Homo sapiens: one gene and its partner. The protein of the gene in region 1 interacts with the protein of each later gene in a biochemical or structural test. Each region holds a gene or a part of one and is shown on either strand. Other genes may lie near its edges.

Region 1 (2,971 bases):
GATGATGAATTTTCTCAGATGACCCTAAGAAATTGTTTTACCAAAAACAAAGTGATCTATTTGCTTTGGGAGGAACTCCCTTCCTTTTGTTTCTCTTCCCTTCCCCCCTTCCCCTGCGGTTGTAGAGCCCGTTCTGTCCGGTCGTGGTTCTGTCCAGCCATGATCCGGGAGTCCTAGCTTGCTAATGGAACACCTGAGATGTTCCTTATGGCTCAAGGCTTGAATTGAAGGTGGGAACCACCTGAAGCCTCCGTGGGGAGGCCTTGCCTGAGGTTAGGTGTCTGGCATGAGTGCCGCCGGCTGGGTGTGATTTAGGTGAAGGACATCTGTAAAGGAGCGTGTCACAACCTCTGTTCCTTCTTCACATCTAGTGGTATCCTGAGGTGCGGCACCACTGTCCCAACACTCCCATCATCCTAGTGGGAACTAAACTTGATCTTAGGGATGATAAAGACACGATCGAGAAACTGAAGGAGAAGAAGCTGACTCCCATCACCTATCCGCAGGGTCTAGCCATGGCTAAGGAGATTGGTATGGAATCCTGTGTTTTTCCTCCTCCTTGTACCTCTTTTATTGTAGTGACAGAGACTGGAGTCCAGTCTGGGAAAGGAGGGTGTGTGTCTCCCACTCAGGGCCTGGTGTACTCTTGGGGAACCAGCTGGCAAGGCCCTGTGGGTCTTAACGTCAGCGTTGGAAGGTGGAAGCAGGGCTGGGAGCCGGCAGAAGGCGCCCGGGCCCCAGGAGCTGCCTCCCGCTGGTGGTGTGATCAGAAGAGAGTGGGGTCGAGTGTACATTGCCGTGTGGTCGTGTTTCCTGTAGGTGCTGTAAAATACCTGGAGTGCTCGGCGCTCACACAGCGAGGCCTCAAGACAGTGTTTGACGAAGCGATCCGAGCAGTCCTCTGCCCGCCTCCCGTGAAGAAGAGGAAGAGAAAATGCCTGCTGTTGTAAATGTCTCAGCCCCTCGTTCTTGGTCCTGTCCCTTGGAACCTTTGTACGCTTTGCTCAAAAAAAAACAAAAAAAAAAAACAAAAAAAAAAAACAACGGTGGAGCCTTCGCACTCAATGCCAACTTTTTGTTACAGATTAATTTTTCCATAAAACCATTTTTTGAACCAATCAGTAATTTTAAGGTTTTGTTTGTTCTAAATGTAAGAGTTCAGACTCACATTCTATTAAAATTTAGCCCTAAAATGACAAGCCTTCTTAAAGCCTTATTTTTCAAAAGCGCCCCCCCCATTCTTGTTCAGATTAAGAGTTGCCAAAATACCTTCTGAACTACACTGCATTGTTGTGCCGAGAACACCGAGCACTGAACTTTGCAAAGACCTTCGTCTTTGAGAAGACGGTAGCTTCTGCAGTTAGGAGGTGCAGACACTTGCTCTCCTATGTAGTTCTCAGATGCGTAAAGCAGAACAGCCTCCCGAATGAAGCGTTGCCATTGAACTCACCAGTGAGTTAGCAGCACGTGTTCCCGACATAACATTGTACTGTAATGGAGTGAGCGTAGCAGCTCAGCTCTTTGGATCAGTCTTTGTGATTTCATAGCGAGTTTTCTGACCAGCTTTTGCGGAGATTTTGAACAGAACTGCTATTTCCTCTAATGAAGAATTCTGTTTAGCTGTGGGTGTGCCGGGTGGGGTGTGTGTGATCAAAGGACAAAGACAGTATTTTGACAAAATACGAAGTGGAGATTTACACTACATTGTACAAGGAATGAAAGTGTCACGGGTAAAAACTCTAAAAGGTTAATTTCTGTCAAATGCAGTAGATGATGAAAGAAAGGTTGGTATTATCAGGAAATGTTTTCTTAAGCTTTTCCTTTCTCTTACACCTGCCATGCCTCCCCAAATTGGGCATTTAATTCATCTTTAAACTGGTTGTTCTGTTAGTCGCTAACTTAGTAAGTGCTTTTCTTATAGAACCCCTTCTGACTGAGCAATATGCCTCCTTGTATTATAAAATCTTTCTGATAATGCATTAGAAGGTTTTTTTGTCGATTAGTAAAAGTGCTTTCCATGTTACTTTATTCAGAGCTAATAAGTGCTTTCCTTAGTTTTCTAGTAACTAGGTGTAAAAATCATGTGTTGCAGCTTTATAGTTTTTAAAATATTTTAGATAATTCTTAAACTATGAACCTTCTTAACATCACTGTCTTGCCAGATTACCGACACTGTCACTTGACCAATACTGACCCTCTTTACCTCGCCCACGCGGACACACGCCTCCTGTAGTCGCTTTGCCTATTGATGTTCCTTTGGGTCTGTGAGGTTCTGTAAACTGTGCTAGTGCTGACGATGTTCTGTACAACTTAACTCACTGGCGAGAATACAGCGTGGGACCCTTCAGCCACTACAACAGAATTTTTTAAATTGACAGTTGCAGAATTGTGGAGTGTTTTTACATTGATCTTTTGCTAATGCAATTAGCATTATGTTTTGCATGTATGACTTAATAAATCCTTGAATCATACGACTGGTAATACTGGTGTTTTTGAGACTTGATGAACAAGTTCCTGGTGTGTGTTTGTTTGCCTTGCTTTAAAGTCCTGGGTTGTTGGAGACAGTCATTTTCAATGCGTGTCTCCACACAGGAGGGACAGGGAGTGCCACCTCCAGGGGAGAACTGGGTGAGCCCAAATACGGCAGGAGTGGAGGTGACATTCATGTTTGGACCTGTCGAACAGTGGCGAAGCTCTGAGGGAGAAGCGCCTATCGGGGTGTGTGTGCACATCCTGGCCCAGAGCTAGGGGCTGAAGATGGAGATGTTGGGACCCTAGACTGGCCCTGGAAGAGTAGAGGTTGGTGAACCACATGCCCTTAAGATCCTTTCCAGAGGCTGAGTGCGTGGCTTACGCCTCTAAGCCCGACGCTTTGGGAGGCTGACACAGGAGGAGCGCTTAAGCCCAGGAGTTCTAGACCAGCCTGGACAAGAAAGAGACCTACCCAAAAAAAAAATGCAAGAGCCTGAAC
Region 2 (3,500 bases), on another chromosome or scaffold:
TGTTGGCCAGGCTGGTCTCCAACTCCTGACCTCAAGTGATTCTTCTGCCTGGGCCTCCCAAAGTGCTGGGATTCCAGGCAAGAGCCACCGCACCTGGCCTGGTATGGATTTTCTTTTAACTGCCCTGGGGCAGCCCCCAGAGCCATGCGAGCAAGGCACTGAGGGAATCAAATTGACCTTTTTCCCTCTGGCTGCTGTAAGAAATAAAGGTGGAGAAAGCAGTGAGATGATGGAGGCCAGGCCAGGGTGGGGGACTTGGAAGGGACAGATGTCCACAGTCGGGGCTATATGGCAGAGACACGGTCATCGGAGTTTCCTGGTGGGTTGAAGGGTGAAAGGCTAGCTCCCAAGTTCCAACACCTCATTCACCCCAGCACTGTCCCCACCCACAGCCCCCCTGCCCTCTGTCTGGGCACCTGCTTTGTACCAGGCCCAGGAGGTCAGTCCTGCAGGGGACACAGAGACAAATACCCATACCATGGCAGCAAACACTGGCACCAGATAGGTCCAGAGCATTGCAGGTACAGAGATGAAGGCAGCTGACCCCCAGGGAACTAACTACCCAGAGCTGGAGACCAGAAGCGCAGGCAGCCCGCCAGAATGAATGGTGAAGGGTTAGGCTGTGAAGAGGAGGGGAGGCTGGAGGAGTTGGCAGGGAACCGCTCATGGCCTTCAGTGCCAGGCGGAGGAGCTGGAACCTTGTCCTGACAGCAGTAGGGGGCTATGGGGAGATATATAGCAGGGAGGGTCATGACTGGAGTTCAAAAGAGCCCTTGGACTCCCAGGCGGAGGGTGGGCCTGAGCTGGGGGCACTGGAGGCTGGGAGCCCAGTGGGGACAGATCCTCCACCCAGTAACCAAGTGGCTTCTCTGGACCCAGTGACTCCCGTGGACTGTGGTGGCAGCAGCAGTGGCAGCAGCAGTGGAGGAAGTGGGACATGGAGCCGCGGTGGGCCCCCAAAGAAGGAAGAACTGGTCGGGGGCAAGAAGAAGGGACGAACGTGGGGGCCCAGCTCCACCCTGCAGAAGGAGCGGGTGGGAGGAGAGGAGAGGTGAGGTGTGGTGTGGTCATGCCCACCCTGTGCCCAAGCCCCAGCTCCCAGGCTCCAGGCCACAGGACTGAGGTCTCCATCTCTCCCTGGACCCCGCAGGCTGAAGGGGCTGGGGGAAGGAAGCAAACAGTGGTCATCAAGTGCCCCCAACCTGGGCAAGTCCCCCAAACACACACCCATCGCCCCTGGCTTTGCCAGCCTCAATGAGATGGGTAAGAGCCTGGGTTCTTGTAAGGGGGTGGGGGTTCCCTGGCCAAAGGGGTGAGCCTCCTGGGGCTGAGCGAAGAGACCAGGTTTCACTGGGCCAGTGAGTGGAAGGCCTTCCTGGGAAGGGAGATGGTGGCCCCTGGGGCGTGGGGGGTCATTTCCAGGGGCAGGGACCACCCTTCTCTGAGGCTTCTCCTGGAGACAGATTCAAGAACGATGCTCGTGGGTCTTGGTCTTGCTGTTGGAGGGGTCATCGGGGGCTGTCCCTTGGCACAAGTCCCCGTGGGGCCCTGGCCAGCCCTGCAGCGGAGTGATGGCCCTCTCCGGTTGCAGAGGAGTTCGCGGAGGCAGAGGATGGAGGCAGCAGCGTGCCCCCTTCCCCCTACTCGACCCCGTCCTACCTCTCAGTGCCACTGCCTGCCGAGCCCTCCCCGGGGGCGCGGGCGCCGTGGGAGCCGACGCCGTCCGCGCCCCCCGCTCGGTGGGGACACGGCGCCCGGCGGCGCTGCGACCTGGCGCTGCTAGGCTGCGCCACGCTGCTGGGGGCTGTGGGCCTGGGCGCCGACGTGGCCGAGGCGCGCGCGGCCGACGGTGAGGAGCAGCGGCGCTGGCTCGACGGCCTCTTCTTTCCCCGCGCCGGCCGCTTCCCGCGGGGCCTCAGCCCACCCGCGCGTCCCCACGGCCGCCGCGAAGACGTGGGCCCCGGCCTGGGCCTGGCGCCCTCGGCCACCCTCGTGTCGCTGTCGTCCGTGTCCGACTGCAACTCCACGCGTTCACTGCTGCGCTCTGACAGTGACGAGGCCGCACCGGCCGCGCCCTCCCCACCACCCTCCCCGCCCGCGCCCACACCCACGCCCTCGCCCAGCACCAACCCCCTGGTGGACCTGGAGCTGGAGAGCTTCAAGAAGGACCCCCGCCAGTCGCTCACGCCCACCCACGTCACGGCTGCATGCGCTGTGAGCCGCGGGCACCGGCGGACGCCATCGGACGGGGCGCTGGGGCAGCGGGGGCCGCCCGAGCCCGCGGGCCATGGCCCTGGTGAGTGAGGCGCCCTGCACCCAGGTCACAGAAAACCCCTTCTTTCCTCCTCTGCCAGGGTCGCAAGTCCAGCCCAGCCACGACCCCTCAGGCAGCCACCTCCTGCTTCTTGTGGAGGAGGGAGGGTCTGTGTCCCTTTACCGCTCACTCCTGGAGGCATCGGGGGTCTCCAGGGGACTGAGACACAGGCGGCAAACTGATGCCTATAAGGCCAGGCAGGTGCCTATAGCGGTTGTGACCAGCATGACCATCGCCAATTCTTACACAGCCTAGACACTGTTCTCCTCCATCTGTTAACTGGGTGGGAGATGCGGCCATAGCAGTGTTATTAAGTACCCACGTCAGGCACTGTGCTGCTTGTTTTAAGTTATGGTTATTCTATTTGCTCCTCACCTGCGTGGTGAGGCACCATTTTTATCCCCCTTCAGAGCTAAGCCATGCCTGAGCTTAGCCCAGTGCAGGAGAGTCGGGAAGACCAGGGCTTTGGCCCCCGAGGCTGCCGCTAAGCAGCAGTTCCAGAAGGTTGAGGAACATGCCAGGGTCCACCCAGAGGAGCAAGCAGCTGGGAGTGGTCCCAGTCTAGGTCAAGGTCCCAGCACTGCCACACTACAGATGGAAACTGGATGCAGCAAGATCCACGGATTTCTCGAGAGAAACCAGAACTTGTGCTTTTCATGTAACAGCTCTGGGCTTTTTAATGCCACCCTCTGCCCCACCCCACTCACCTCCTCTGAACCTCTCTTACCAGGCCCTCGTGACCTTCTGGACTTCCCCCGCCTGCCCGACCCCCAGGCCCTGTTCCCAGCCCGCCGCCGGCCCCCTGAGTTCCCAGGCCGCCCCACCACCCTGACCTTTGCCCCGAGACCTCGGCCGGCTGCCAGTCGCCCCCGCTTGGACCCCTGGAAACTGGTCTCCTTCGGCCGGACACTCACCATCTCGCCTCCCAGCAGGCCAGACACTCCGGAGAGCCCTGGGCCCCCCAGCGTGCAGCCCACACTGCTGGACATGGACATGGAGGGGCAGAACCAAGACAGCACAGTGCCCCTGTGCGGGGCCCACGGCTCCCACTAAGGCCTGCCCACCACCGCCCGCCTGGGCAGCCATGAATGTAGCGCCCCAGGCCCTGCCCCAGCCCGCCATGCCACAAGGTGGGGGAGGCCCTGGGCAGGATGTTCACTCTATTTATTGGGGAAGGAGGGAGGGG

Evidence for each region. Proteins that work in one complex are often made in the same cells at the same time.
Region 2: the proteins of RAC1 (region 1) and MAP3K10 form a complex in vitro, tested with the Homo sapiens proteins (one study listed by BioGRID).

What each region holds. Positions count from the first base shown.
Region 1 is NC_000007.14:6,401,497-6,404,467, forward strand, and holds the end of RAC1 (ras-related C3 botulinum toxin substrate 1), read left to right. Parts: intron 1-371; coding exon 372-531; intron 532-819; coding exon 820-950; 3' UTR 951-2,471; downstream 2,472-2,971. UniProt on the Homo sapiens protein: Plasma membrane-associated small GTPase which cycles between active GTP-bound and inactive GDP-bound states.
Region 2 is NC_000019.10:40,211,926-40,215,425, forward strand, and holds part of MAP3K10 (mitogen-activated protein kinase kinase kinase 10), read left to right. Parts: intron 1-879; coding exon 880-1,051; intron 1,052-1,150; coding exon 1,151-1,263; intron 1,264-1,463; coding exon of another isoform or gene 1,464-1,591; coding exon 1,592-2,296; intron 2,297-2,724; coding exon of another isoform or gene 2,725-2,741; exon of another isoform or gene 2,742-2,976; intron 2,977-3,044; coding exon 3,045-3,367; 3' UTR 3,368-3,500. UniProt on the Homo sapiens protein: Activates the JUN N-terminal pathway.